2 separate regions of the Homo sapiens genome follow, and region 2 is linked to region 1. The links come from fine-mapping of genetic effects on gene expression. A gene starts in region 1. The other region holds a variant in brackets. All regions are shown on one strand. Distances are between the middles of the regions. Region 1 holds the start of SUSD6 (sushi domain containing 6). Region 2 overlaps SUSD6 (sushi domain containing 6).

Region 1 (16,151 bases):
TCATAAAATACTATCCAAAGGGGGCATAGGTTCTAAGGGGATGGTTGAGACCCTCCTGTTGGAAGCAGATGCTTCTGTCCATCGTCCATTTGTCCCACAAGGATTGTCCCAGCTGTCCTGTGCTCTGTGCTGGGAAATGCCATGATGGTACTCTGTGGAGGGAGACTCTGGTTGAGCGTCTTGACCTAAGGTTGGAGGGCAGAGGCTGCATTCTTAATCCCACCACTAGAGGCTGGGCATTCACAAGGGACTGAGGACCAGCAGCCCCCTTCTTCCAGGCAGGCTTCCTCTCAGGTTCCTGTCCCTCCATCTCCCTTGGTAACTGGAGAACATACTCTATTGGGGGATATGGAAAGTAAGAAATCTTTATGGTGCATCTAGGTGGAGTGCATCTCAAATAGAACCGACACACTTTTTTTTTTTTTCAGACAGAGTTTCGCTCTTCGCCCAGGCTGGAGTGCAATGGCATGATCTCGGCTCACTGCAAACTCCGCCTCCCAGGTTCAACCCATTCTCCTGCCTCAGCCTCCCAAGTAGCTGGAATTACAGGCATGTGCTACCATGCCCGGCCAATTTTGTATTTTTAGCAGAGATGGGGTTTCTCCATATTGGTCAGGCTGGTCTTGAACTCCCGACCTCAGGTGATCCGCCCGCCTTGGCCTCCCAAAGTGCTGGGATTACAGGCATGAGCCACTGCACCCAGCTGGAACCGACACACTTTTGAGGCATCAAACATTTCTCACCTGGCCTCAGAACTCACCTTCCCTGTAAAATGGAGACTATGGGGTCTGGCTGCCTCCTAGAGATACTCCACATGTGCCCTGCACCCACTAACCCTGCTGGCTCTGCTGGTGAGCTCAGCTAGCCCTGGGTTCACCTCCTCCACTACTGCTACAGACCCTGGTGCTGGAAGCTTTCAGTTTTCCAGATGTAAATGTTTCACATTTCAATTGTAAATGTTTAGCAACTTGTTCTATAGGTGGGAGCTGATTTATATTTAGTAATTTCTGTGGTGTAAATACTTCCACTGTATCTGATTTCAAACTATCAATGTGATGTCACTGAATGTGGAGTTGAGAAGAGATGAGAAGTGGCATAATATGATGTAGTACTTCATAAGAGATGTAAATAAACTTGAAAGCATAGATAAGAGTATAATGTAAGAGAAGGGAGGCAGAAAAAGTAAAAAAATACAATGTAGTAAAATAATTAATAATTAGGAAGTGGTAACTTGAGTATTTATTACTTTAACAACTATAATTTAATTTTACATATATATAATTTAATTTTTTTAATTTTTAATTTTTTTGGTTTTTTTTGAGACAGAGTCTTGCTCTGTCACCTAAGCTGGAGTGTAGTGGCACAATCACAGCTTACTTTAGTCCTGACCTCCCGAGCTCAAATAATCCTCCCACCTCAGCCTCCTGAGTAGCTGGGACCACAGGCGTGTGCCACCATGCCTGGCTAATTTTTGTATTTTTTGTAAAGAGGTCTCACTCTGTTGCCCAGGCTGGTCTCAAACTTCTGAGCTCAAGTGATCCTCCTGCTTTGGCCTCCCAAAGTGCTGGGATTACAGGCGTGAGCCACTGCTACTGGCCATAATTTAATTTTTAACAAAGGCTGTGTTTAACAACTAGCTTACAAAAATCTTGAACATTTTAGAATTGATTCTTGACAGTTTGAGCACTCTTCAGCACACCACTGCAGGTAACCTGCTCTGGTCCCCCTTTAAAAATCACATTTGGTTTTTACAGTGCAAATTACAGCTGTATTCCCTAAGAAGCAGGACATGCTACTAGTAACTGTGGCCTTGGCCTCATCTTTAAACTTTATGTACCTCAGTTTCCTCATATGCAAAATGAAGATAATAGTATTAATACCTATTTCAGAGGCTATTGCAAGGATTAAATAAAATCATGTATGTGGAGCCACTAGCAAAGTATCTGGCAGACAGTACATATTTAATGTATTGGAGCTTTTTTCAGGGGATTCATTGACATGCCTGGGGGCAAAGCTGCACCTTGGGGTCCATCATCAGCACCTTCAAAATACCCTGATTTTGGAGGTATCAAAATACCCTGATTTTGAAGGTCCCTGGCCAGCCAAAAGAGGGACTGACCCTACTGATCCAGCCAACAAGTCCTGGAGCCAAGAACCTTCTGAGGTGTTGTGTCTGCCAGAGCTTCACAGCCCTATCCCTGCCTCCCCAGACAGTCTGAAGGAGGGAGCAACTCCATTCCTCTATGCACTGGCAGCTCAGAGCTAGCAAGGCCAATCATATAGCTCTGTCTTCTCACCATTAAATCACATGAAAATGAACCATCAGGGAGGGAATACAGTGTCCAATGACCAGGAGCTGTGTGTGTGTGTAGGTGTGTGTGTGTGTATATGTGTGTGTGTGTGTGTGTGTGTGTGTATGTGGGAGGGGTTTGTGGGCTGGCTCTGTCTAGAAAGGCCTCAGGCCCTAGGCTATCCCCAGTCCCTTCCTTCCTCCCTGCAGATTGTCTCCTAGAGTCACTGCCCAGCCCTTGGGCAAAGGGCAAGCAGCAGGTCATCAGGCTGGTTGGCACCAGGGGTGGGGGGGATCTGATATTCATTCATCTTCCACTGGGATACCATCTGGAGACATAGCAGGTGGATGCTCCCTTTCTACCTTGGCTTTTCCTTGTGTGAAAAATGGGGCCAACACTTTTACCAGTTAACCTGACCTGTATTAGGGAAAGAATGTTGTCAAAGACATGCTTCAGAAAAGCAGGTGGGGCTGGGTTGCCCTCTTATATGTATCTGCTAATTGGGCAGCCTCAAGTGCACATTTTCTAAGGCTAGGGTCAGAGTTGGGGTGGATAGGGAATCATAGCTGCTGCTGTGAATAGCCCAGATCTAAGCCCTGAACTCTGACCTCTACAAAGCTCCCTCCGACCAGTGGCCTGCAGGGATTGCGTCACCAAGCCTGGCTCTCACAGGCTCCTGACAAGCTGCAAGAAGGGTTGCCCCTGGTGATGGTGCAGGCTCACAAATTCAGATAACCTCCTGAGCCTAGATCTTCCTCCTCTGGAGTGGGAGTTGCTTCTCAGCTCCTGTTGGCCTAGCCCTGTACAGCCCACCCATTTTGGACTCTGACATTCTGCGGTGAGGGTGGCCTCACCTTCCACCTCCTCTGGGGTCAAATGGGTTTACCTTCACAGGGCTTTGAAAGCTGCCCAAGGAATCTTGAATCAAAACATGAAACTCATGCTAATTTCTATATGAGATCAGACAAGCTAGCAACCTTTCAGTGCCTCAACTTCCTTATAGGTAAAATTGGGGACAATAATGTCTCTTCGTTTTATGGGGATGTTGTAAAAAACTAGCTGGTATGCAAAAAAGCACTTTTTTAAAAAGCAAGAGATATATGAGGACAATTTCAATCTTTATTTGCTATTTTTATTAGGGGTGGGAGGAAGCACATGGTTTATTTGGGAAAGTGTGACCTTTGGAACAGACAAACAAGAATGAATTCTGCTTTTGCAACATACATACTTATGTGGTTTTGATATGTCAAAAAAAAAAATCTCTCTAAGCCTTGCTTGTAAAATGGTGTTAATGATAATTAACTTGGAGGACTGTTGCCAAAATTAGAGGTTACACGTATCAAGTCCCTACCAAGCACCTGACATACAGTAGGTGCTTTGTAAATAGTAGCTGTCATTACTACTATTGTATGTAATAACCATAGCAACTGAGATTCCATGTACTTATTCTGAACCTTTTCTCTCACTTTCAGAGAGCCAAACTCCTCTGTCCTGCCCTGCAAGCAGTAAAGGCACACACTCCTTGTTATATTCCTGGGAGATGAAAGGAATACTGTGCCTCCTGACTCTTATCATAGGAGTGACTACCTCATCCTGATTGGCCCAGGACTGTCCTAATTTTGGCACTGGAAGTCCCATGTGCCAGGAATCCCCTTAGTCCCAGGCAAACTGGGATGGCTGGCTATTCTACTCACCACCAACTGGGACTAATCTAACCCCCATGCCATATTCCAGCACCTAGATTTAGAGCAGAATATTAAGATTTGTGCTGGAAATTGGCCAGGTGTGGTGACTCACGCCTGTAATCCTAGCACTTTGGGAGGCAGAAGCAGGCTGATCACTGAGGTCAGGAGTTTGAGACCAGCCTGGCTAACGTGGTGAAACCCTGTCTCTACTAAAAATACAAAAATTAGCTGGGTGTGGGGGTACGCACCTATAGTCCCAGCTACTCGGGAGACTGAGACAGGAGAATCCCCTGAACCTGGGAGGCGGAGGTTGCAGTGAGCTCAGATCATGCCACTGCACTCCAGCCTGGGCGACAGAGCAAGACTCCGTCAAAAAAAAAAAAAAAAAAAAGATTTATGCTGGAAATCTGGAAGGACCCAGGAATATTAGCTCAAAGAGCCATCTTAAGTCCTTTTAGAATAAGGCAGGGTCTGAATTGAAAAGTGAAAATAAAAAATTAGCTCTGGTTTAAAATTGATTGTTAGGTGGAAGAAACAAAAAATCAATTATAAAGGCCACATATTTGTATGATTCTATTTATAGAGAGTGCTCAGAATAGGCAAATCTATAGAGACAGAAAGTAGATTGTTGGTTGCCTAGGGAGGGAGGCAGGGAAGGTGGTAGGGAGGGAGGAAATGGTAGTGACTGCTGATGGGTATGGGAGTTTTTTTTAGGGTCATGAAAATGTTCTAAAATATTGTACGACTCTGTAAATATACTAAAAACCATTGAATTGTTCACTCTAAATGTACAATTGTACATGTGCAAATTTGTACAATTTGTAAAGTTATACAAAATAAATACAAATTTAAACTGTGAATTGCTGGTATGTGAATATCTCAATAAAGCTGTTAATTAATTAATTAATTTATTTAAGACACAGTCTCACTCTGTCGCCCAGGCTGGAGTGCAGTGGCGCAATCTCAGCTCATTGCAGCCTCTGCCTCCCAGGTTCAAGCAATTCTTGTGACTAGCCTCCCACATAGCTGGGATTACAGGCGTGCACCACCACGCCAGGCTAATTTTTATATTTTTAGTAGAGACGAGGTTTTGCCATGTTGGCCAGGCTGGTCTTGAACTTCTGGCCTCAAATGATCAGCCTGCCTCAGCTTCCCAAAATGCTGGGGTTACAGGTGTGAGAAAGCTGTTAAATTAAAAAAAAATCTTAAAAATTTTAAAGAATTTTATTTAAAAAAATCTATGATCCCTCCCACTTGAGAATGTCTAAGTCTAAATTATTCTTAACCTTCATCTTGTGAGATCTTTTCAATGGCAGAAAGATAATATTCACCCCAGGCCAGGAAGTACCATTCCATTTTGCGGGTGAGAAGAGCAAGGCCTATACGTAGAATGTAACAGGGGCTTTTCGTCAGCTGTACTGAAGAGGCCAGTGGAACTTCAGATAGGAGGGGATGAGAAGACAGGAAAGGCTGGTGAGCTGACATTTATAAAGGGAGGAGACTTGACCCTGATTCTGGCAATTCAAAGCAGAAGGAAATGGAAGCTAATCCCAGCTGTAACCCAGCTACTCGGGAGACTGAGGCAGGAGAATCCCCTGAACCCGGGAGGCGGAGGTTGCAGTGAGCTCAGATCATGCCACTGCACTCCAGCCTGGGCGACAGAGCAAGACTCCGTCAAAATAAATAAATAAATAATTAAATATTTAAAATGTTTAAAAATTTTAATTTAATACTTTTCTGTGGCACTTTGGGGCTCAACCAAAGTGCCACAGAAAAGTAGAAGCAGCAGCCTTGGGAAGATTCTGAAGGGTAAGTAGAGAAGGCCTTCAAGATTGAGGAAACAGCATGGGCACCTGGTTTGTGACAGGAATGGCTTGTTAGAGACCAGCAGGTGGTATGGGGAGGCTGGAGTGGGGTGTGTGGAGGGATGGAGAGCATTTGGGCCGGACTGTGGACAGCACAGGATACTACAGTCCTTGCTGATGACTTTGAGTTCATTCTGTGGACCCTGAAGGTCTGGGAGAGGATTTTTTTTTTTTGAGACAGTCTCACTCTGTCACCCAGGCTGGAATGCAATGGCACGATCTCGGCTCACTGCAACCTCTGCTTCCTGAGTTCAAGCAATTCTCCTGCCTCAGGCTCCTGAATAGCTAGGATTACAGGCATGTGCCACCACGCCTGGCTAATTTTTGTATTTTTAGTAGAGAAGGGGTTTCGCCATGTTGTCCAGGCTGGTCTCAAACTCCTGACTTCGTGATCTGCCTGCCTTAGCCTCCCAAAGTGCTGGGATTACAGGCGTGAGCTACCGCGCCCGACTGAGGATTTTTGGGTAGTGATGGACAGATCTGCATAGGGTCTCACAAGGGATTTTATAAGGTGGCAGTTCTTGTATGAAGTTACTGAGCCTCTTAATGGCCAAACTGACTTCAGTGCACAGCCAGGGGCTCAGTTACTTTGGCAGTTGATCTGACCTGAACCATCCATGCCTGCTTTCTTCCCTTTCCTTTCTTTCTTTTTCTCCTTCCTCCATTCATCTTCTCCAATTCTTCCTCCATCCCTTTCCCTTGCTTCCTTCCCCCTTGTCCCCTCCCTGAGCCTTGGGTCTGCCTGGCATGTTCCTGCTGCCCACACTGATTTGGTTGTGCTCTGAGGCAGACCCAGGTAGTTCTGAATTGTGCTTTTCAATCTTCTAGTGGTCTGGGCAGTGTGGCCCCAAATGAGCAGGAAGGGAGGGGTGCCCATCTTCTCTAATGAGTCTGGACCCAAGAAGGCAAGGAAGAAAGAAGGCAGAACAAGGATAGACTTATGAAAAAGGCATTATAGCAACGAGCCACAGGTTGCTGTGGGGCCCAGAAGGGAAGGGTTCTTTTGGGGATGGGTCTGTGTGCATGGGGAGGAGCATCCTGTTTATTTGGTTCAAGCTACTTCACAAGGACATGCCCTGTTAATTCACAGTGCTTTTCCCGAAAGCCTACTAGAACTAGGCCTGGTGAGAGGCCCTGAGAAGGTGTATCCTTTTGTCCAAGAGCATCTGGGAGAAGAGGCCTGCCTGACCCAAGCTGCAGCAAAGACACAAGTCTGTAGGTCCAGATGTGGACTCTACCACTGATTTACAAGTAGGAGTTCCTTAACACTTATGGAGGACCTCTGAGACCGACACGGTGCAAGGCCCTGGGGTACAAAGATAAAAAGCCAGAGTCCTCCCCATCAAGGCGCCACGGGCCCTGTAAACACATAAACCGAGGACACACTGCATGAGAGATCACCAATAAACGATGTAGCCATACAGTGCACAAACTGCTCACTCAGTATGTGCTAGAAAATAGCCCCAGAAGGCAAGGCTCAAGAGGGGAAATACAGTTAGGAATGTGGCAGGCTTCTAGCCCGGGCTCTGCCAGTCCTGGCTCTGAACTGCGGTTTTCTCAACCTTGAGATCCCTTGTGTGCTTTTAGTATGCTGAAGGATCACTCACTTCAGAATGCTAGTGAAAATACAGATTCCCAAGTCCGACCCCACTGAATCACAATGGCTGGAGGTCATTCGGGGCCCCGAATCTGCATTTTCACCCCCACCCACCCCCCGGGCAGCTTTAATGTTGGCAGGCTAGGAACCACAGTTCGGATTACTGCTTAACAGGGAGATAATAACCTGCTTCAGACGAGCTAGGTCAGACGAGCAATTCAAGAGCTAACAAGGCAACATGCGCCAAAAGCCTTGTAAACCTCAGGGCAGTACAATTCTTTGCAAATAATAGTAATTCAATCATGCAAATAATAATAATAGTAAACGAACTGGAGAGCGCACTGGAAACGCCGCATAGTCCAGCTGAGTCGGTGCCACCGCCCCATCCACTCCAGCGCAGAGGGACTGTCTCTTTAAGGACCCCCCACCTCCCCAACCGCGTCGCTTCTCCCTTGGGTACCTGGCCCGGCCGGCGGCGCGTGCGTGCAGGGCCTCCCGGCGGGGCGGTCGCGGCGGCGCGACGCCGGCGCCGTTGCGTGCGCGCCTGGCCCTGCCCCTTTCCCGCCCCTTCCCCGCCCCCTCCCCTCCGCGGGGCCTCCCCCGCCCGCGCGGTACAGCTGGGTCAGTGACGCGGGCGCTGCAGCCGTCGCTACCGCCGCGTTCTATTCTCCGAAGCCGGCGACCGCCCCACCTCCTCCCTCCCTCCCGCCCGCTTCCTCTGCCCACAGCGCCGGCCAGAGCGAGCTAGACAAGGGCACGCGGGGCCTCGCCTAGACCCGAGAAGACTGCGGGCGCGCGCAAGCGGCGGCGTGGAAGCTGTGAGCGCCCCCATCCCGGAGGTCTCCGCCGGCTCCCGGGTGAGTTGTCACCGCGGCCCGGGGGCGGCGGGGCCGGCATTGTGCCATCGACGCGCTCGGCCGGCTGTCAGGGGCGCGGGACCAGCGCGCACCGCCCAGGAGTGACGCTGGCCGGAGCCCGGGCCGGCTTCGGCGGCTCCCCGCGCTTCTCTGCGCCGGCCCGCTGTCACCCGGCCGCGAGCCGCGCCGCTGGGAGCCCCGCGCTGGCGTGGCGCGGCCAGCCGGCCAGCAGTGGGGGCTGCGCGGCCGGGGGGACCGGCGGCTGGTTTGCGGCCGGGAACTTGGTGACCCGCGGTCCGGGGCGCGCCGTCCCGCGTCGCTGCCCGGGCAGCACCGGAAGAGCCAGACGCCGTGCCGATGGGTGCAGAGGAGGTAGGCAGAGGCCCTCTGTGCCACTGTCATTACTGCCCTCAGCCCAGCAAAGCTGCGGGGCTTGCGCTGGGGCAGGGCTGGCTTAGAGAAGGTGGATTTCCTGAGGAAATCTCAGAGCCCGCCTGTGCGCACCGCGGCATTCGGGAGCCCCCGCGCCTCGGCTGCTCTTTAATCTCAAAAACTTCTCTTATTAACCAGGCTAAACTCCCCGAAACCAGCTATTTTCTTTCAAAAAGTAGGCACGTACATACAGACTTTCCTTTTTTCGCTTGGTTTTGAGACCCCAGCTATGAGTGTGGATCTGACTCTCCCTCATGGGAGTCGTGGCTGGGGAGCTGCTGAAGTGGAGAAAAGTTACCCTGGACGAATTTAGGAGCAGGAGGGGGAGGTGGTTATGGGGACAGCAAGACCCAGGAGCAAAGAGGCGTCAAAATAAAGTCTTGGGCTGGTTAAAGGGAAGTTGGCGTCTGGGCAAGGAGGCCTAAAGCTGTTGTTCCCACAGAATTTTCTTTCAGTGGCAGGCGACATGCTGGGCTTTGTTGCTCTCGCTAACTGGGCTCCTGTGTGCTCTTCCAGAGGTGCAGTAAGATTACTCAGTTCAATTAGGCCTAGGGATTTACTCCCTTTTTTGATCTACAGAGATGGGAAGTATGTCTTTCCTTCACAGTAGTTAATTCATTTCTTGCTGTTTTCGTTCCTCTGGTGTAAAAACATACATAGGAGTTACGCACACACACCTTTTCTGTTTTGGGAATTCCACACCCAAACTGTCACCATCTAGTGGAGGCTAGTAGAGACATGTGCTTGGCACTGACTTCTGAGTTCTCTGGGTTTTGTGTTTTTAGCTAGAAGCATATTCAACCAGAAATTAAAATTTTCCTGGAGTTGGGGGAGGTATGTCTACATCTCAGGAAAGAAGGTATTTAAGCAGCAATAATATGGAAAGGTTCTTGAGGACTTACTGAGTACCAACCTTTGTGCTAAGGGCTTTACTTTTTTGAACTCATTTAATAACAGACTTTTGATGTAGATATTATTATCCCCATTCTTCTAGTTGAGACCCAAACCAAACAAGTTAAATAACTCGCCCATGTCACATAGGTATCTCATGGTGGAGCCCACAGTCTGAACTACTAGATTATACTGCTAGTTTCTGGTTTGTTTACCTTTTGATAAAATTGAACCTGGAGTCTTTCTAAAACCTTCTGAAAGCACTGCTGCTTCAGGCTGTTTCTCAGATCATGAGCATTCTAAACTCTTTCTCCTGGGTACACACTTACGGTATGTTTGCATAAGATTCATTTGTTCATTCTTTCATTCAGTACTCCCAAGTAGTTATGTGATACCGAATGTATGCCAGGCACTGTGCTAGGTATTGCAGGTACTGCATTGAATAAGTCAGAATCCAGCTCTCATGGACTCACAGCCTTTAAGTCCATTTGTTTTGGTTTATGTTGTTAGCTTTCATTGCTGGCCATTTGCTGCTGAAGGAACTTCTGCCCAGCGAGTTAAACAGAGGACAGTATTGGTATGAGTCCTGATAGATAGGACTTCCTGTCTGCAGAGTAATTTTTTGGATACTGTAGTAGAAATGGCATATGAAACAAATCCTCACTTACACCTAGATAGAGACAGGTGCCAGGGTGCTCAGTGTTTAAACCCTGAGAGCAAACCCACTGTCAAATGGGCAAGTTTGACTTCTTTCGCTGAAGCCTGCCTTCTGAAAGCCCAGAATTTGGTGAGATAGAAGAGAAAGAAGGGTAGAATGAGGTGTTACAGATACAGGCTGGCAGATAAAGAGACCTCAGCACTTTGTCTGTTTTCCTGGTCAGTCTCTGAGGTGTGGTGATTGAACTTGTGTTCTTTTTTATTTTTTATTTTTTTTGAGATGGAGTCTCGCTCTGTCACCCGGGCTGGAGTGCAGTGGCACGATCTCGGCTCACTGCAACCTTCACCTCCCAGGTTCAAACGATTCTCTGCCTCAGCCTCCTGAGCAGCTGGGACTACAGGTGCGTGTCATCACGCCTGGCTAATTTTTGTATTTTTAGTAGAGACTTGGTTTTACCATGTTGGCTAGGCTGGTCTCGAACGCCTGACCTCAGGTGATCTGCCCGTCTTGGCCTCCCAAAGTGTTGGGATTACGGGCGTGAGCCACCGTGCCCGGCCTGAACTTGTGTTCTTATGTAATGTTGCATCTCTCAGTAGGGGATGTCCTCCTTTGCTCTTTTGGTGGGGCAGCAATTCCTGCAGCAGCCTTCCCTCTACATGCACACACACACCCCTTCCAAAAGGTAATAATTCACCTGGTTTCTTTAAAGTTAGAACTTCTTTCAAGTTTATTGCTACTAAGCATTGTTTCACTCCCTCCACACTTGTCCATTTCCCACATAAAAACTTGGCTTTTGCTTCAAATATTTTCTTCTGCCCTTTTTTCATATCCTTAGCTCTTCTGACAACCAAGTTACTACTGGTATCATTTGTAGGCTGGGAGAAATACAGCATCTTTAAAAAAAAATAGTGAGGTACATACTCTTCCTCATTTCAGTACCAAACAAGTGAACTGTGGAGAATGAAGCAGAACCACTTGCCAGCAGAGAGGGAAGGCCAGAGGGCACACGTGGTTGTCTTTCCCCTCTAGTTCCCCATTTATTAAGAGACAATTCACACTTGCAGGCCCGAATGTCAGCAGATCCATTGGGCCCAGGTTGTGTAATTGCCATACATGAAGTGAGTTATTAAGCTCCTGAAATGACATGCTATCTCCTAGTTGAAGCTGACAAGCAGGATTTATTTTCCCTCTTCTTTCTGTCTGGACACTATGGAAGTCTTGTTAGAGGGTGTTCGCTCAAGCAGTGGGAGAAAGATCAGAAGGAGCCAATAGAGGAGGGAGCCCCATGTCTTGTCTTCTTTTCAACTTTGAGAGCAAACATTGCTTTGTTGCAGACTTGAATGTTGAGGATTAGGACATTTGGTTAAATGTAAGCTTTGGGACAAATGCAAAACTAGGGGAAATAGAGACTCTTTCCCCAGGTTTCTCACGAGCTCCATAGTACTCAGGAACCTTTGGGTGGACTGTCCTTGCGCGTCAAGATCTGTTCACTCCACCCCTGGCTTGGATTCAAGGCAACAGCCATTGTGTGTCCCTTGGATGAGTGTAAGTTTGTGTTTCTGTGTAAGAACCTTTCATCTTAAAAAGTACAAGTTCTGGGGAAAGGTGCCTCTTACAAGGCTTAGGTTTTCGCAGCAGAGCCTGTTAGGCACCTGTGTTCTTCTTGGGCTGATGTGTCTGCGATGGTGTCCTTTTTCTTCCCTTTTTAGTTTTTTTTGGCCTGGAAACCAGCAGGGTGCCTCCATTTGCTCTCTCATCCTCTGGTTCTTACTTGAGTGTGGAAGTCGCTCCACTGGTGGACCTTGCAGTGGCACTGAGCTGGGTCACTTCAGCCGTGAAAGGCCAACTGTACTACTGTCAAGGCTTGGGACAGTTAAGCGTCCGTGAAGGTACTGGATACAGCGACAGCAGGAAGTGCAGCAGTGAGAACTGAAACTAATTTCACAGACTGTGGTGTTGCCTGTGATGTAGTCTCCCTCCCTGGCTCTTCTATCTCAAAAAAGGAAAATAGCCACCCTTGAAACATCTGAAGGCTGCGTGCCAAGAATTCACACAGTACTCCTGAAACAGGATATTACTGAAGCATTTTTCTCAAACAGAAACAGATGTAGTTCCCTGTTACTGTCGCCAGTGTTAGTAGATCCTTAAAATTACCTGACAGCAGTGTGCCCCTAAATGTACTCCCCGCTCCTACACACATACACAAGTGTTTTATTTTATTTTATTTTTTGGCAAAGCCTCCTTCCTTGATTTGAGGGAAGTTAGCCTGGGATTCCTGATGACAGTAATAGATTCTCAGTGGGTTTGCAGACGGCAGAGGTGGTGACTGACAATTCTTTATTACTCAGAAGAGGATCTTCTCTGGTGAAAAATGATTCAGGATTCTGCAGTTGGAGATTGGATACAAAACCTCAGAGAAGGGACACAAATAGAGATCTTTCTCAGCCTCCCCTTTCTTGCTACCCTTTGTAGAGGAGAGGGAATGTCTCATATTTCTAAGTCCAACCTACTGCCAGCAGTGACTTGCCTTCACCCACAGAAATTTAAGATTAGAGTGTGGAATTGCCCTTTATGTAAACTGTCCTTGCTGAAATTTTCTTTGACTAGACTAGGCTTCAGCTTCTGACAAAGACAGTAAAATGAAACTGGCTTCTGGGAATGGCATAAGAGCCTGTTTATCCAATTCTTCCTTTAGATTGTTCTCAGTTGAGCTCAGCAAACTAAGTGGACGGAGGCTTGTAAAAGGTAACTGCAAAAAGGGTACAAGGTGATTTTGCTTAATTTGCATTTTAAATTATAGCAGTCTATGCAAACTGTTTGAAGGAAGACTGAGAGATGTTTTTTGGTGGGGAGGCACAAGATTACAGATAGCTTGGAAAATAAAAGGGAAAAAAAATCAGCATGATTCTACCACCCTAACATAATGTGTATTCTGTTTTTTCCATCTTCAGATGGTAGTACCTGTACATTCAGCTTTGTATTTTTTTCACTTAGCTTTTTTTTTTAACAGGTCATAAAATTCACCCATTTAAAGTACAATTCAGTGGTTTTTAGTATATTTACAGAGTTGTACATCTATCACCATAATCTAATTTTGCAACATTTTCATCACCCCAAAAAGTCACTCCCTATTTCTCTACAATCCCACCTAGCCCTAGGCAACCACTCATCTTTCTCTCTATATAGGTTTGCCTATTTGGACATTTCATATAGATGGAATCATATGATATGTGGTCTTTAATAACTGGCTTCTTTCACTTAGCATAATGTTTTTGAGGCTTATTCATGTTTTACCATGTATCAGTACTTCATTCCATTTTATTGCTGAATGCTATTCTGTTGTATTGATATACCACATTTTGTTTATCCATTCATCAGCTGATGGACAGTTGGGTTGTTTCTGTTTTTTGGTTATGAATAATATTGCAGTATTGCTAAGAACGTGTGTATAAGTTTTTCTGTGGGTATATGTTTTCATTTCTCAAGGAGATACCTTTAAAGCTGCATCCATCCATATCTCTACTTTGTGGTTAACATTCTCCTAGGTTATGCAGTTTGTTTGAGGAAGAACAGTGTTTTAGTAAACTCTTGATCCTACTGTGGTGTTGCGGATATTGCCCTGAATCAAGAAAAGGTGCCACCAAAAAAAAATCCAAAACCCAAAAACAAAAAGAGAGAATCCTGTTTTTAAGTTTGAACTCTCCAGTAGCATTGTTTCCAAATATTTGGTGCAGAACTTTAACCATTGGTGAGAGTTGACAGACGCGATAGTGCCTAAATTCAATGCACATGTACTGCTGCTTTAAACAAATAAAGAGGATTTTCAATGCGAAGCCTCAGCTCTAAATCTCATCTTTGTGTTTTATAGAGAGGACTTTACCATGAACCCCCAAAGCCTTCCTTATCAAATGTGATTTATAGTTCTCAGAAGCTTTTCCTTTTCTTGTGAAAAATTCCATGCCAGGGTTCTGTGCACCTGCTCAAAGGCTTCTGCTAGGTTGGGGAGTGGAATGCTTATTGAACAGAGAGCCAGCCAGCAAGGTAGGGAGGAGGGAGAGGGTCTGTGAGTGCCCTGAAAATGTAGATCTGAGAAAGAGTGCTCTTTAGAGCAGCCCCCACAGGGCTTTTCCAGGTGGACCTCAGGTGTAACCCGAGGTTAAAAACAGATCATGCCAGACACAAAAAGGAGCAGATGGTGCTGCTTGGAGTGTCATTTCCTCTACAGGATGTGTCCCTGTGTGGTTTTACATCATGCCAACCATATTAATGAAATAATGCAACAGAATGTCTCCTTTTGCCCTTGTTCCAATTGGAACCACAGGTTGAGTTTCCCTAACCTGAAATATGAAGTGCTCCAAAATCTTAAACTTTTTGAGCACCCACATGATGGAGAATTCCACACCTGACCTCATGTTTTAGGTCACAGTCAAAACTACCTTCAGTCTATGTGTATTACGTGTAAATGAAACATAAATGGATTTTATGTTTAGACCAGGGTCCCATCCCTGAGATACCTGATTATGTATATACAAATATTCGAAAATCTAAAACATTTGTGATCCCAAGCATTTCTGATAAAGGACACTCAGCCTGTACTAGCACTTGTGACCAACAGCTAGTCTTGCTTTCAACAGCTAGTCTTGCTTTCCCTGATCGTAGATCCCTACTAAAAGCTCTTGAAAGTGTGCATATGCAGGCTACCTAATGATTTAACGGAGGATCAAGATGGTTACACTGCAGAGAAACAGGAGGGATAGGGCATATGCCCTTTGTCCAGCAAGACAGACAAAAACTAGGAACTTGAATTCTCTTCTCTGGATTCCTGTATCTGGAGCCAAGGCCAAGGATCAGTTCTTCTAGAAAGTTCCCTCCTGTGTGTGTGTGTGTAAATGTGTGTGAATGCAGCCATAACTTCCCTGCCAAAATTCATTGCCAAAAATTTTGTGATTTGAAGCAGGCCTTACCTGTTAATGCAAATTTGATTCTCAAATCCTAAGAGTTTCCAAAGGTTGAGTGAAGTGAGATGAGACTCTTAGTTGAAGATCCAGATGCTTCACTGTTGCTATCTAGATGCTACCAAAACTCCCAGCACAACAAAGTATATGAAGAGAGGTTCTAGGTTCATGAAATGTTAGAGTTGGAAAAATGGGCCTTTGGGGTTCTTCTTATTCTACCTCCTCATTTTAAAGAAATGCAAGTGGGAAATGGATGCTCAGAGCTGACTTGCCTGAGAGGTGAAAGGGCTAGTGGAGAAGCCAGAGCCCCTGATTCCTAGTCTAGTGCTTTTCCCTCCCGGTGTGATCACCTCTTTGTTTCTCCCCCTCTTCTGGGCCTGGTCCCGGAATGGGGGTTGGGAGTCCAGCAGGGTGTCGTGGTTCATATTTTTGGGAACAAATTCAAGTTACTTCTGTGATTGTAGTTTTGAGTCTAATAGTGAAATTACAAAGGCAGTGAGTCATTAAGTCCAATTCTTCTGAAAGAAAACTGTTCTTAAAATGGGTGCAGAGCCCTCAGGGCTGCTCTGCCTATGGAGCAGCCATTCTTTATTCCTTTACTTTCTTAATAAACTTGCTTTCACTTTAAAAAATCGGTGTAGTTGTGTTTAGGCTGTGCCTGCTTAACTTTTAAATCTCTGTGCTGTGTATCTTTGCCATTCAAAAATGCCACCTGGCCTGGTACGGTGGCTCACACCTGTAATCCCAGCACTTTGGGAGGCTGAGGTGGGACAATTGCTCAAGACCAGTTCAAGACTAGCCTGGGCAGCATAGTGAGAGTCCACATCTCTACAGAAAAAAAAAAAAAAAATTAAAAATTAGCTGGGCATGGTGACACACACCTGTAGTCCCAGCTACTTGGGAGGCTGAAGTTGGGGGAT
Region 2 (16,151 bases), 84 kb after region 1:
TACAGGCGTGAGCCACTGTGCCCGGCCTAGCTTATGATTTTAAGCTGTCAGATGGGCTTTTATTTAAAAGACTGGCCTGCTCAAACATTGCTAGCCTTCTATAACATAAAACCCCAGGTTTGGGGAGTTAAGAGAAAACCACCAAAAAATAAACCAGCTCTTAGACTGTGAACTTTCTCAAACTCTCTAGTTTCAATCCGTAACTGTGGGTAGGTAGAGTTGTTATGTATGTGCTTTAAACGACAAAGTTTTTAAGAAAAACTAACCAACATTCCACACTGGGGTACTATTATAATAGAGAAAAATCTCTCTAATTATAGCAGTATTGTGGGCTTCTCCCATGCCTGGCTGGCCACGACATGGAGTTGATAAGCATACAGTGTCTTTCGTACTTGCCGTTACAACTGTTAATTAAGAGAATTCAGCTGTGGCACCAGCTGGGGATGTCTGGCTTTGTGGAAGATTGCAATTAGATGCTTTTTTTTCTTTTTGTTTTTTTTCTTTTTTTTCCCTTTTCAACTTTGGTGGAATGCCTTTGAGTAGGGGCTTTTAGTCTCAGCAGTATAAATACTTTATAATGTGCCTAATTATGTAATTATACAGTTATACTCTTCTGTGTACACACACATTGTTTTATGAATTTGTATGCCCTTTTCTAATACATGAAACATCTAGCCTGCTTTTTGGTTGTTGTGGTAGAGCCAGACTCCTCTCTGCATTGGGCAGAAAGAAGAAGACTAGATGTATTTACTGATTAGCTTCTGATTATGATCTGCCCTACTTCTGTTCCTCTTCCACCTCCCTCTTGACCCTCTATCTCCCAAATAATTAGCATCTTAGTAGCTACCTAGCAAAGTCAAGGTAATTTGAATAAAATTGGATTGTATAATACTCTTATCTTTCCATTAGTTTGCAAATGTAGTCCTTCAAAGTGTGTAGTGTTATTTTTCCCAGTCCTCTGTTCTAGGCAGTTATAGAGCATGAGCCTGGACGTGAGAGCTCATGCATGCATGCAGGCACAATGGGACCCATTGATTTCTGGCATTCAGCTTGTGCATAGAGGACCTGTGACCCCAGCTGTTAGAACCAGGACCTGGGAGCAGCTGCTTTCTGGATCCAGTCCTCCAGGGATAGGCCATCTGCTGCCATGTGAGAGAACCCTGGAAAAGAAACTGACCACAAGATATCTTTGTATTCCTTTTCTGTGTGCTCCAGCCCCTTTAGTTCTTTCCTGTCCCCTCTCACCTAGGCAAACTTGAGAAGCATGATGAATCTGCACTGGAAAACTCGCAATGGATTTTCCGTTTTCTTCCCCTTTCCCCACTCCACCCTGTCAGCACATCCAGCCCATTGGAAAATAGTTTCCAGGGGATGTAGGCAGACTTATATGGGCAGCTTCTTCAGTGGGATTGGTACTATTTAGCAGGCTTTCATTTTATTATGAATAACATGGCTTTGCATTATAGGCCTAGAAGTGTCCTTAAAATCTCATCTCATGGAAGAGGAACCCAAGATTCCACATTCTTTAGCCTTGCATTCAGGGCCTACCCTCTTCTGGCACCAGCCTGATTTTCTAAATGTTCAGTTATCTCCTGCTAAACCTGGAAACATTTGCTAACTTCTCCGTACACATACCACCTCTTCTTGATTCTCTGCCTTTGTTTGTGCCTTTATGTCCCCCACCATGTTCTTCCCACTCTCCTTTATCCCCGTCATAATCCTTTATCCCGTACTCATGATCCTACTTCCCGTGAAGTTGGAGCTCTGATACCATTTCTACAATCTTCTTTGGTCTCTTCCCCATTGGATTAATCCTTCTTCAGAACTTTCTGTAGCCCATATTGATTTCTAACATATATCTATTATAGTCGTTTATTAGAAAGCTCCTAGAGTGTAGGACCAATATCTTTTTATCTTTCCACCTGCCTACCTTCACCTGCCACAGTGCTTTTGGTACTTAGTAAAAACTTGTTGAAAAAATGAATGGCAGAATTAAGCTGAGGGAAGAGAAAAAAAGAATGAATGGGTAAATATAATCCTTACATGGATTCTGGAAGAGAAGCAGTAGATATTACTATTATTTTAATCTTGTTGGGGCTCCTTATCTGTATTCCCAAAGAGACTGAAGTCTCCTCAAGGGCACACCATGTGTATTATTTGCCCTTGAATTTCTAGCAGCAGCCTAACACATAGTGCTTAATAGAAATTTGTTAAATTAATGAAGGAATTTGTTAGGAAAGTGAAACCTGGAGAGAATAAGAATCAACACTTGTAAATACTTTTAAAAATTTGTTTAATTTTTTGAGATGGAGTCTCGCTCTCACCAGGCTGGAGTGCAGTGGCATGATGTCCACTTACTGAAGCCTCCACCTCCTGGCTTCAAGCAATTCTCATGACAAGCCCTCCCGAGTAGCTGGAATTACAGGTGTGTGCCACGTTGCCTGGCTAATTTTTGTATTTTTGGTGGATACAAGGTTTTACCATGTTGGCCAGGCTGATCTCGATCTCCTGGCCTCAAGTGATCCGCCTGTCTTGGTCTCCCAAAGTGCTGGGATTACAGGCCTAAGACACCATGCCCGTGTTTTTTTACTCTCTTTTGAGTGAAAGTTATTAGTTATTAAACCTGCTGTCTGGAGGACAAGAGATTAAAGGTATTTTCTGTACATCAATGTGGCATTTAGACATAGTTATCTACCAACATGCAGTGTGTGTGAGGCTGTCCGAGGCATTGTCTTCTGACTGGGCATCTCAGACTGGTCAGTCAAAAGTGGCTTGCGAGAGACTAGGGTCCAAAGAGCCAAAGAGGCCATGACAGGTGACAGGGGCATGGTCCTCACCCTGATAAATAAGCATGGTTGAGACTCTACTCCTGACTGTTAGCTAGTTTAGGCCCAAGTTTCACTATTTTGAGGTTGTTTTGTTTTACTAGAGCCAGACCAATATGTACACAGGCTAACATCAAAGGCCAGTCCTAGACCTTCAGGGCCAGGCATCCATCCTTCTTTGGACTTTGCAGCAGGCTTGAATGCATTCCTGTTGTTTTTAAAGATCCTTAAAGAGGCTTAAATGTGGCTTCCTCAGAGAAAAGCATGTGGGAAGGATTCAAAGAGAAAGCTTGTAAGAGGAGCAGAGGGATCTTCCAGGAGCACGGTATGCTGAGCAAGATGCAAAAGTTCAAAGTAGTGAAGAAGAGAACTCCTAGGGGGATTTGACTCCTCACTGTCCAGAATCAGTTGGTGAAAGTTCCCCTCTGGAGAAGTGCAAAGGAAACCAAGAAGGCATGGCAAACTGCTTTTCCCGTGGTGGTCATTTGGGAGAAGGTGGTTTAAAATTTTGTGATTTAAGATTGTTCAAAACAGAGAATCTCATCCCGCACAAGATGAAGGAGGAAGAATATCCAGGTCAATGGACTTGGTAACTTCCGCTCCACCTGCCTGTGCACAGTGAGTACAGAGTTCCTTAGGCTTGTTGGTTTAGAGGCAATAGAGATGAGACTTGTGGCTTCGTCCAGCCTTCTCCCCCCGCACCAAAAAACCACACACCTTTTATTGTCTCTTTTGTATTTGTAGTCCCTGTCTCATGGTGGGACCCCACCCCCCAGAATGTACAGGGCTCACTTCATGGTATGCCTTAGACCCAGTCACATCTCTTTCTTCAGAAAAGACCATTCAGGGCTGGGTGCAGTGGCTCACATCTGTAATCCTACCTAGCACTTTGGGAGGTTGAAGCAGGTGCATCACCTGAGGTCAGGAGTTCAAGACCAGCCCAGGCAACATGGCGAAACCCTGTCCTTACTAAAAATACAAAAAATTAGCCGGACTTGGTGGTGTGCACCTGTAATCCCAGCTACACAAGAGGCTGAGGCATGAGAATTGCTTCAACCTGGGAGAAGGCAGAGGTTGCAGTGAGCCAAGACAAGATCGTGCCACTAGACACCAGCCTGGGCAACAGAGCAAAACTCTATCTCAAAACAACAGCGACAAAAAACCCATTCAGACCTCCACCCCTCAACTGCTGGTGTTTCTCAAAGACCTATGGTGTTTTGCTGATTTGGGGCCATTGCCTCAGTGGATTTCTGTTACCATCCATAACTAGAGTTTACTGGTGTTTCCTTTCTTTCTTTGCGGTTGTCTAGGCCTTTGTGAGTAGCAGTGGCCTGTTGAGTGCCTAAGAGAATCAGCACACTACCTGACCCCCTGTTTGGGAGTATGTGGCAGAGGCTGTTTATTTCAGGCTTTGGCAGTGATAACCCAGTGGCCCTGTGTGTTCTGGGCAGTGGCAGAAAGGTAGCCCTCTAATTCCAGGTCACATCCCCATTCTGCATTTAGTGACAACCTTCCTTTCACATATCCGTCTTAGAAGTCTTGTGTTCTCAGCCAGGCTTGGTGGCTCACGCCTGTAATCCCAGTACTTTGGGAGGCTGAGGCGGGTGGATTACCTGAGGTCAGGTGTTCAAGACCAGCCTAGCCAACATGGTGAAACCTGTCTCTACCGAAAATACAAAAATTAGCCCGGTGTGGTGGCACACACCTGTAGTCCCAGCTACTCAGGAGGCTGAGGCAGGAGAATTGCTTGAACCCGGGAGGCGGAGGTTGCAGTGAGCTGAGATCATGCCACTGCACTCCAGCTTGGGTGACAGAGTGAGACTCCGTCTCAAAAAAAAAAAAAAAAAAGAAGTCATGTGTTCTCAGCTGAAAATGCCTACATATCTTCTCCCACTTGCAACTTTGCTGTCTGTGATCCTTAAATAGCTCCATTGTGTGTAGTACACAGAAATTAGTGAAGGAAACTGTCCTGCCTTTTCCCTCCACTTCTCTGGAAAAATGTGGCCCCACCTGAGATATGAACTGAGTCCTCTGGGCACAACTAAACTCACCAGGCCATATTCTTCTCCAAACAGGAATTATAGCAGCTTTTGTCCATATGTATCCCACCCCTATGTTATACTTTGTAGGTCTTGGGGTAAATTTTTTTCTGGTGGCATCAGAAAAAATCAAGAAGCTTCCTTGTAGAAGGGCCAGCCAGAATTTGAATGCAGACTCTAGTACTTAGAATCCAGGTGACCTCAGTCCATTACTAAATTTTTCAGAGCCTCAGTTTTTTCTGAACAAATCAAGTTTTATACCACCTTCTTCCTAGGGTGGAAGAATTTAATAGGATAACACTTTTAAAGTACCAGTGCAGTGCCTGGTGATAAATGTTAATTCTCTTCCTTACTTGTATCCTTTTGGCAACAGAGATCATTAAATTTGTTTTAAATTTGATTGTGTGTTTCTTGAGGCCCTGCTGTGTATGCCTGGGACTGTACTTGGCATTAGGAGTTACCATTAGCTGGTAGGATTGGAAATGAAACCACAATTTTGGCCTTTGTACCCAAGAGTCCAACCCTGTTTTAAACTCTAAGCCAGACTCCTAAGTCAGTTATCACCTGCTCATCAGCTTTCCTTCTGAGCTGCCGTAAACAGCCATCTGGGCCTTTCCTGAGAGGACCAGTCATCTCCTCTGGGAGATGAGGAATTCTGAGAGGGGAGAGCAAACACATATTTTAGCTCAGGTAGGTGATATGGTGAAGGAGATGAGAACAAGAAGTGACAATGGCTGATGAGGAAAAAATAAGCATTCTCTGCTTTTTCTTAAGCCTTTAACTGCCACTGTCAAGGGAAACAGTAACACTTGCTAATACACGTGGAATAGCCTGGCTCCCTACCTCCATTGTCATCCCACCATCTGGAGGTGGAGGTAGGAGACAGCTGTGGGCTCTGCTCTATAGGTCACTGTACTGACCTATAGCAGTGGTAGTGGCTTTGGGCACTGAGTGGGCTAGCCCTGTACCTGGAGCAGCAGGATAAAGGAGAATGGTCCTCTGGCCTGCCCCTCCTTGTAGCAGTGGTAACAGTGGGAGGGGGAGGGGTTCCCAGCCCCAGCTGGCAGCCTGTTTCCCTGGGTCCCTGAGCTGCAAGAACAAGAGGAGGTGAAAGGGTAACAGGCCATATGGAGTCCATTTGTCAGCCAAGAGCAGCCTGGGCTGTATTGTCGAGAACGGGAAGTGAAAAAGGAGCCGGCTTATTACTGAACTGGAACAAGGAGAGAGCAAACAACACCCCCCAAAGTGCTTATCCTGCTCTGTTTTCTGCCTGCCCCCTCTCCAAATATCCAGAAATTTCTGAAATAATCCTTTTTCTTTTTACCAAAGCCTTTGCCCATTCCAAAAATCAGAGATAAGGGTTTAGTTTGCTACATGAAAATTTATCAGTGCCTAGTAATGTGCCAGGCATGATACAAGACCCTTTCAAGTATGCAGTTTTGTTAGTCTTCTAAAAAAACCTGTGGAGCTGGATATTGGCTGCTAAGGACTAAGGCTCAGAGGAGTTATGACAGTTGACAAGGCTGCAGAGCAGGCCCCTGGGTCAAACCCAGATTCATCTGTCTGACCCCCAAGACTATGCTCTTACTCCATGTGGCTCTGGTCCTGTTAGGTAGGCAGTGTATTTTCACAGTTAGGTACCAATTTGGAGAATACAAATTGTACCCTGGAGAGGGATGCTCTTTGCCGTTGTCTGTTATTGACTCATCTCAAATCAAAAATCATTGTGGCTCATTGCAGTTGAAAACAAGACAGTGTTTTGAAATAAGGACAAAATTTTGCAAGTCA[C/A]GTTGGTTTTCTACTAAGCATCTACTATCTCCTGGATTATTTGTCAGGTACTAGGGATACAAAAATGAGCAGAACAAGTCTCTGCCCTATGGCTTAGATGTGTGGGTTGGTGGTTATTGGGGAAATGGAGGAAGGACCAACCTGTGAGAAAACCTGCAGAGACTACAACATGGTGATAGGTTACAAATAGGAGTGAAGATGATGTAATGGGAACCCAGAGGAGGAATAATAAAGCTGCTGTTATTGAACACTTAGTATGTGACAGACCCATTACCAGGTACTTTACCTGCATAGTTGTGATTAACCTTTTGAATCCCCATGTTAAAAATGAGGAAACTGAGGAATAGGAAGATCTCCCCAGGACTACCCAGTGGGTAACTGTTGGAGCAGTGTGCAACCCCAGGCCGTGAAGTCTCAGCCCAAGCTGGTAAGCTCCACCCTGTGCTGCTCATTGTTTCTCTCTGGCCATGCCTGGGAAGGTGGCCTTGGAACCTTGGAGATGGGTGGGGTTCCAGCTGACTGCATGTGCTTTCAGTTCAGGGTTTCTAGGCTGGGAGAGAAACAGTACTTTTGACTGAATGACTAAGGACTTTAGAGGCTTAGGTGCCACTAAAAGCACTTTCTTTTATTGAACGCTGTGCCTCAAACATGAAAACTCCAGGTGACAGGAGTTTTTATGTTTGAGGCAGGGTGCAGTAAAAGAAAGTGCTTGTTGGCTCTGAGGCCTCTGGCTGGCATTTTCCCTCTCCTGTGAGGGGGAGGAAGTGAGGGGCCCAGGCCTAAAACAAGATGGACAGGTCCGAGGCCTGTCCCACCTGTCAGTTGCTGATCTTCCGAGGAGGGCTTAGGTTGAGCCTCTCTTAGGAAGGCAGTGGTGGGGGCCCGAGAAGAGCCACAGGAGGTATCCTGAGCCATGGGTGGTTTCTCCCTGTGTTCTCCCACCCCAGCTCTGGTGCCACACCCTGAAAAAGGCTTGAGCTACTGCAGGCTGGCTCTCCCCCAGTGAGTGGGAAGTTCTCATGAGAAAAGGGATCCTGACTGGACAATAGGCTTCCTGTCTGACTGCTAGGAAGATTTGTCTCATAGGAGAGGAAGGTTGCAAATGGCATGAGAAACCATCTCACTTCCCTCTCACTGCAGCCTGTTTTAGACTTGACTATTTGGCGGGATCGGGAAGCCAGAAGGCTGGGCAGAGCCATGGACCAGAGCAGCCCCAGGTATCTCTTAAGTAGTGGGACTCCTGCCTGTTTTCCGGCTCTCACCACAAGTCCACAGCAGGAATCTGTCCCAATGCAGGAATTTCTGCATGGACAGGATGATCTCTAGCCCCTCACACCTTGTGCTGTATCCAAAACCACAATGGTTGCAGGACTTTTGCGAAGGAACCTTGGAGAGGTAGTGAGGCCCGCCAACTTTAGACAAATTTGCAAATGTCAGAAGAGATCTCAGAGGTGATCTGGTTCATTGCCTTCATGTATTGAAACTGAGGCCCAGAGTCTACGGGCAGTACCCAGTTTGTCCTTGTCACTGGACTCTGCCATCTGTGGCTCCCTTGACAGATTATGGGTGTGAGAGAAGCCTGACTCCGAGACCCTCTGATACTGCCCAGTGCTGTGGAATGGGAATACAGCCTTCTGGGGTTCAAATCCTAACTGTGCCACCCACCTGCTGGGTGAAATTGAGCAAGTATCTCAACCCCTGGCTCATCTGTGTAATGCATTGTTATGTTTCTAGAGGGTTTTTTGTGAAACTTAAATGAGTTACATATGTAAAGTGCTCAGATAGTGCCTGGCCTGTAGTCAGTGAACACAAGCTGTTGTTATTAGGAGGCTTCAGAAGAAACCTTTTGACCATATCAGATGTCATCACTTGTTTTTTCTTCTTTGTATTTGTCTGGAATGCTCTAATTCCAACTTGCCTGGGAGGCTTTCTTTAGGGGAATCACCTCCCCTTTGAAAAAGGCTGTTCATACTGGGTATAACTCTTTCTTTTATATGCTGTACGAAGTAGCTGGATGTCTCCAAAGCCATAGGCTGAGCACATCAAATGGGGAAATGAGCCACAAAACAGAACCTGGCAGGTTTCCTGATGCCCTGCCCCCCTCAGCAGGCCCCGGCTTAACTGAGTGGTCAGGCTTGCAGCTTAGAAGCCAGAGTTCCTGGTGAATCCAGCCCTGCCAATTACAAATGTGTGGCTTGAGGCAGATCACTCAACTCAGTTAAGCCTTATTGTCCTTATCTGTAAAGTGGAGAAAATATAGTACCTGCTTCATGTAGAGAGAGAACCCAGAAGAGTACTTGGCACAGGTAATAAACTATCTGTTTGCAATAATTACTGTTTTCCTTATTCCAAAACAAACAGAACTATACATTTAAACACCTTTGTTCTCTGTATTGACCTTGCTTTTTCTCTGGATCTCTTTGCTTCTACAAACCATTGAAGGCTAGAAGTAGAAATATAACCTTTATATATAAGAAAGGGTTTTGAGAGCAAGCACATAAATAGTGCTTTTCTAAATAACTTTAAGAGACCCTTAGTGCTAAATGCCTCCTTCTTTCCACATCTTCAGCCTCACATTTCATGCCCTGTCGTGTGGTTCTGAACCTTTTCCACTGTTTTCAGATCCCCAGACCTGTCCTGACTGCTGGCCAAGGACTCCTTCACTGAGACTGTGCTGTCCACTACAATAGCCACTACTAGGTGGCTGCATGTGGTGACTGAGAACTTGAAATGTGTTTAGTCTGAGTTGAGGTGTGCTATAAGTGTAACCGGAAAGGGGTCCAGATTCAGACCCCAGGAGAGGGTCCTTGGATCTTCCACAAGAAAGAATTCAGGGCGAGTCCACAGAGTAAAGTGAAAGCAAGTTTATGAAGAGAGTAAAGGAATAAAAGAATGGCTGCTGTATAGACAGTATAGACAGAGCAGTGTGGCATGGGCTACTCGGCTGAGTGTATTTATAGTTATTTCTTGATTATATGCTAAACAAGAGGTGGATTATTCATTAGATTTCCAGGAAAGGGGTGGGAATTCCTGGAACTGAGGGTTCCTCCCCTTTTCAGACCATATAGGGTGACTTCCTATGTAGCCGTGGCATTTGTGAACTGTCATGGCTATGGTGGGGGAGTGTCTTTTAGCATGCTACTGCATTATAATTAGCATATAATGAGCAGTGAGGACACCGGAGGTCACTTTCGTCACCATCTTGGTTTTGGTGGGTTTTGGTCGACTTCTCTGCCCAACCTGTTTTATTGGTGTGGTCTTTTGTGACATGTATCTTGTGACCTCCTATCTCATCCTATGATTTAGAATGCCATGCCTAACCTCCTGGGAATGCAGCCCAGTAGATCTCAGCCTCATTTTACTCAGCCCCTATTCAAGATGGAGTCGCTGTCATTCAGATGCCTCTTATATAAGTGTACAGACTACTATGAGAAAAAGAATATAAAGTATCTCATTAGTGAATTTTTATGTTGACTCCATGTTGAGATGTAATCAGTCAACATATTTTTTCATATGTTGGGTTAAATAAAATATTAAGATTAATTTCACCTGTTTCCATTTATCTTCCTAATTGGCTACTAGAACATTTTAAATTACATCTGTGGCCATGTTATATTTCTGTTGGACAGCTTTGTGCTAGGTTTGTGATTTCCATCCATTCCTTCCTCCTCTCCTTAGTTTCTACTCTTTTTCTTCTTTGCCTCAGGCTCTTACCCTCCCTGGGTGCCGATGAATGATCACCTAGCCAGAAGGACACCCCAGGCTATTAGAAAAGCTCATATTTGAGCAGCTTGTGTCACATTTAACACTTACTTCATTGGTTTAGGGTAGAGTTGGCTGTGACCATGTCTGTCTTCTCTAGGTTGTAGGCTTGTAGTGGGGGCATGGTTCTGTTACCGGAAAGAGGTCCAGATCCAGACCCCAACAGAGGATTCTTGGATCTCACACAAGAAATAATTTAGGGAAGTCCATAGAGTAAAGTGATAGCAAGTTGATTAGGAAAGTAAAGGGGCTGGATGCGCTGGCTCACGCCTGTAATCCCAACACTTTGGGAGGCCGAGGCGGGCAGATCACTTGAGGTCAGGAGTTCGAGACCAGCCTGGTCAACATGGTGAAACCCTGTCTCTACTAAAAATACAAAAGTTAGCCGGGTGTGGTGGCACACGCCTGTAGTCCCAGCTACTCAGGAGGCTGAGGCAGGAGAATCGCTTGAACCCATGAGGCAGAGGTTGCAGTGAGCTGAGATTGCCACTGCACTCCAGCCTGGGTGACAGGGGACAGGGCGAGACTCATCACAAACAAACAAACAAAAAATGCACTATAGATAATTTAAATGTAACCTTCTCCTACTCAACCCTAATCCCTTTGAGGCTGCATGCATGTCACACTGATCTTTATATTCCCTGCTTTCCACACCTTGTTTTGAAGGAGCTCAAGTATTTGTTCTGTTTGTTAAATTGAATGCTTTGACCCCTGGGGCCTTTCCTGGAGCTTATTTTGCTTTGCTTGTTTTGGAATGTTGTAAAAGTTTGTTTTGTTTTAATTTGCCTCCTTCTGAAAGGTTGGCCTGCAAAACCAACAAAACCAGGGAACCTTTAGAAAGGCTGGTGAGGGTCCTCAGCAGTTAGTTTCTGCTGAGGGTGTCAGGCTGAGGCGACGGAGGTGGTGGAAGTATCAGCTAGATCATTTTGCGTCTCATCTGCATTGTTACCAGGGTGGACTTTGACTGAATGCCTACTGTGTGCACTCCCTGTGCTCACTGAAAGCCTATGTGGCTGTGGGACAGAATGGAAAGCAGAGAGGAAGCTAAAGATAATTCATTGATTTTTTTTCCCCCTGTAAAATTGTCTGGCTTTCTCCTTTTCTTTTTAAAATTATGTGGCACTGCCACATCAGGTGAGTTCATTGTCTTCCCAGAGTTAAGTACAGAGCTTCCTTCTGCGAACCTGGAATTGTCAGAGAATGATCCTGGTGCACAGATCAAGACAGTTTCTTGCCTAGACTGTGGCTTCTGGAAGCCACTGAACAATTTCTTTGCCATGTGGGTTTTGCCTTTTTTTAGTGTTCTTCCCAGGCATCACTGAGAGGGTCCTCTTCAACACCTGCTGTTGGCCAGGACTCTGCTCTTGGTCAAGAGGATCATATTTTTTCATGTGTTCTTTTTCTTTTCTTTTCTTTTCTTTTTTTAAACAGAGTCTCACTTTGTCGCCCAGGCTGGAGTGCAGTGGTGCAATCTCAGCTCACTGCAACCTCTGCCTCATGGGTTCAAGCAATTCTTGTGCCTCAGCCTCCTGAGTAGCTGGGTCTAGAGGTGTGCATCACCACACCTGGCTAATTTTTGTATTTGTAGTAGAGATGGGGATTCACCGTGTTGACCACGCTGGTCTCGAACTCCTGACCTCAAGTGATCCGCCCACCTTGACCTCCCAAAGCGCTGGGATTGTAGGCGTGAGCCACTGTACCCAGCCTTTTCACATGTTCTTAGTGTCTTAAAATGACTTGCCTTTTTTTTTTTTTTGGACCCTTTCTTCTTAGGCATCCTTATTTCTTCTTTGAACCTGGAGCATCTTATGACATACTTCAGCTTTTTTCTTTTCTATGACCTTCATAGATGGGCATAAAATAATTTTTGTACTGAGTTTATTTTGCCATACTGAAGCGGTGTTGTTGTCTGGGGTAATATCTGAGGTTCATTGTCCCACAGCCATGGAAAATTAGGATGCAGACACACCAGAGTGAGGTTAAGAGTGGAAGTTTAATAGGCGAAAGAGAAGAGCTCTCTGCACAGAGAGGGGTCCCAGAGAAAATGGGTTGCACTTCTGCAGTTAAATGAAGAAGGTTTTATAGATGAGCTTGAGGAGACCATTTACATAGGGGACGAAAGATTGGTTGGACCATGTGTGCCATTTGCATAGTTGTGAAATAGCTGGCCGTCCCACCCTAATCTTTTATTATGCAGATGGGTTCTCTACCTGGTGGGCACCATGTTGCCTGGTCCTTACTGTACACGTGGTGACAAAGAAAAGGGAACATGGAGCCTCCACTCTGAACACACCTGGCTTCCAGGTGGCCCTTTTCTATTGGCACAGCTGCTGGCATTCACCTGTGCAAGCTTCCAGCTTGCTTATCTATGCAGCTCGATTTTTCAGGCTGCTCTTTGTTAGAAAAGAAATGATTTTGAGGCTGCTTTTCCTTAAAAGGGAAACCTTGCTGAGGACTCTTTTGCCGTCACTATCTGCCTAAATAATTTCTTTCTAGCTCCTGTATCAATACTAGGATTGCTATAATGTTGACATAATCTAAGGGGTCTCTCCTACCTCTAGTCCATCTTATATCAAATTATAAATTTGCTTTTCTTATAATGCTACCCTTCTCAAGAACCTTCAGCGGCTCCCCCTTTTCTTTGACTATAATTATAAATATCTCCTTTTGTAAGGAAGGTCCTCTACAAGATGGTTTCATCACTCTTCATGTTATTTTTTTGGACTTTTAAAAAATTACTCAACCCAGCCAAACTGGGCTGCTTGCTGTTCTCAGAAGTTAACCTACATTTTCCCACTTCAGTGCATTTACTTCAAACTATGACCTCCCTTCCTGATGAAGTGAAGCCCCATCTGAAGTGCTACTTCCTCGGAGATCCTTTCCTAGGCTCCCCTATTCCTGCTTTGAACTTCCTCTCTTGTGGCACAAATCACATTATTTGACATGTGTTAGAATAAATTTGTATATAGAGTATCTTTGGAAGAATATGGTAGAAACTGGTGCAGTGACTCTGGAAAGAGGAACCCAGTGACGGGACACTGTGCACCCTTTTTGAATTTAATACCTTGTATATTTCCCATGAGTCTGTTTTTTTTGTTTTGTTTTGTTTTGTAAAAGTATTTTAGATAACAAAAACCTAATCCCTAAAGCATTACAAGAAAATACTGGAGAGTATGTTTATAAACTCAGAGTAGAGAAAGAGTCCTTAATCCAGAAGCCATAAAGAGAATGATTTTTTAAATATATGTGTGCACTTAATGGTCATATCCCTATTTGGCAAGAAGGACCTGAGGTGCTTATATTTTTGTCCTTTTTCAGAGCATAGCACAGTGACCCCCTACTCAGAATCAGTAAGTATTAGTTGAATTGAAATTAAACTGAATTACAAGTCACTTCTTTGCAGTCCTCACTTTTTTTTTTTTTTGACTTATTATGAGTGCTAGGTGACCGCCAGGATCCCGCTCAAAGATTCTGTGGAGATGTGGGTTTTATGGAAAGAGATACCCAGCAAAGCAGGAGTGGCTTTAGAATCAGCAGCTCTTCCCCTGAGACTGTCCTTCCCAGCACATTGGACTTGTGTGTGGGTCCTGCCTGCTTTCAGGAGCTGCCATGGGGTGCTCAGCATTAATTATGCCACGGAAATGAACCAATTAGACACAGTCCAAGGAGAGCCAGGGAGTAAGTCAGGGAGATCTGTGGCAGGCCTGCTGCCCTGAACAAAAGAGGGAAAGTGTAAAGGCTAAAGCAGTTTGCGGAGGTTTCTTTGGAAATCTAGCTGGCCAGCGCTCTGAACTACTTGGCCAAAGTTAAAGAGCACCAGAAGGAGTGTTTGCGTTTTTCTTTCTCCTGTTCAAGACTCTGGTGGTGGAGGAGAATAGGGACAAGTTGGGTCCTTAGAGGGGACTTGGGGGGAGCTTACTGGAGCTCATCTCCTAGTTTCAGAGAAGCTGCCAGACTTCTCTGGATCCCTGTGGCACCTACCCAGCTTTGTTTTGTTAATAGCTTTTTAAAAATGGCATCTTTTTTTTAGTGGCATCACCTAAAAAAAGAAAAGAAAAAGTGCCTTTTCTCCCCATCTCAAGTGATAAGCAAATTGAGGGTAGGGAGCCATCATCTCTTTTCCATTTGGTGTCCACTCCCCAACCTGGCTGGCAGTCAGCTTGCTTAACAGCCATTTGTAGATTGGAAAGAAGAGGCATGGGTGAGAGAGGCTGTGAGGGCACAGCTGCAGGGTGGTGTGGTCTGCCCCTCTCGTGGATGAGAAACTGCCTTATCTTGGACAGTCAGGCACTGTGGTGTGACTCTCAGTCACTCCAGGCCTGTCAGAGGAAATGAGAAAAAGAAAACGACCGTTCTTATTCTCATACAGATGTCCTTGTGATATTCAGGATGGGGGCAGGTTATTTGTCAGCAAAATTGAATTTCCTTTGGAAAACTTTTGGTCTTTATTGCATTCATGGTTGCCTGGCCATTCTACCTCAGCCCAACATTCCAAACAGTGATTCTGTAGTGCCCCCACTTTTACTGTTTTGGCTGGTAATACCCGGCAGTCCACCACCTGGGGTCTTCAGTTTTGCAGTGTCAGTCCAGAGTGGAATCAGAGGTTGTCCTTTTCCTCCTCAGGTCCACTCAGACCTTCCAGATCCTCTGACTTACCATTACTGCAACTTACCAGGGTTCCCACCATACCTAGGCACTGCCTGCCATCTCCCTAACTGACCAGTTTCAAGAGGGCAAAGGGGAGGTAACCTTGACACCCATACCCCTTAAAGGCCATGCAGCTCATGGGGTAGAAGCAATGTCTGCTGGTGGAAAGAGCAGAGGTTTAGAATCAGAAGATTTGACTGTGACCCCAAGCCTGCCATTTACCTTGCTGTAAGCTTGGCTAAAAGTCACTTAACTTTTGTGGCCCTCAGTGTCTTCTTCTTCAAAGGAGAGTAACGATAGCTGTCTCACAGAGTTGTCAGGACAAATAAGGCGGGAGGTGAAGGTGCTTTTGAAACTAGGCAGTCCTGTATATCAGTGGAAAATGTGGAATTTATCATGGGATAGAGACAGGTGGTGCCATTGACTACTATAGTCAGAGAATGGAAGATGCACAGGGGGTTTGGGAAGCCTCCCAGGGAATCTATCAGAAATCCCCTCTCAGGCCAAGAGTGCACGTTTTTATTATACAATAGAGTCTTTTCTGACATTGATAGTGGAAACAAGGCCAACATTTTTCCTCCTTTCACTGTGATTTATTATGTGTGTTACAGGCTTTATTACATAATACAGGCTTTATTAAAACTATTATGTCTAGATCTCTATAGGTTCAAGACTTTAGAGTCTGCCGTTCATTTATGGATGGAATTCTCTTAAGGCATGGTGGGGAGGGAGGGGGAAATGTTGCAAGCAGCCACTTCCCCTGTTGCCAGTATACTTCCCCTCTGTCAGTGGCAACCTGAGTTTCCAGGGTTTGGTTAACAGTTCCTCCAAGGAAAGGGTTATTTCCTCCTCCTGTGTTTCCTGTAGAGGCCTTCAGAGCTGCGTCACTGAGAGCAGACTCCTACTGGATACCTCACCACTGTACCCCTGCTCTCTCCCTGTCTTTGCAGTGTGCCCCCTACCACCGGAGCCAGAGAATGGTGGCTACATCTGCCACCCCCGGCCCTGCAGAGACCCCCTGACAGCAGGCAGTGTCATCGAATACCTGTGTGCTGAAGGCTACATGTTGAAGGGCGATTACAAATACCTG

What was found. PIP is the estimated chance that this variant, and not a neighbour inherited with it, causes the effect.
Region 2: its variant is fine-mapped to the expression of SUSD6 in whole blood (INTERVAL, PIP 0.91).

What each region holds. Positions count from the first base shown.
Region 1 is chr14:69,603,534-69,619,684 of GRCh38, forward strand. SUSD6 (sushi domain containing 6) reads left to right here and starts at 8,063. Exons shown (of 6, transcript NM_014734.4): 1 at 8,063-8,295. RefSeq lists a silencer at 7,812-8,581 and enhancers at 11,947-11,996, 12,267-12,476.
Region 2 is chr14:69,687,384-69,703,534 of GRCh38, forward strand. SUSD6 (sushi domain containing 6) reads left to right here. Exons shown (of 6, transcript NM_014734.4): 3 at 16,012-16,151. Among named protein-coding and RNA genes, the nearest start is that of SRSF5, 72 kb to the right of the region's middle. RefSeq lists silencers at 929-1,223, 13,909-14,203 and an enhancer at 7,103-7,152. The variant C/A (reference allele first, on the strand shown) is at 6,653.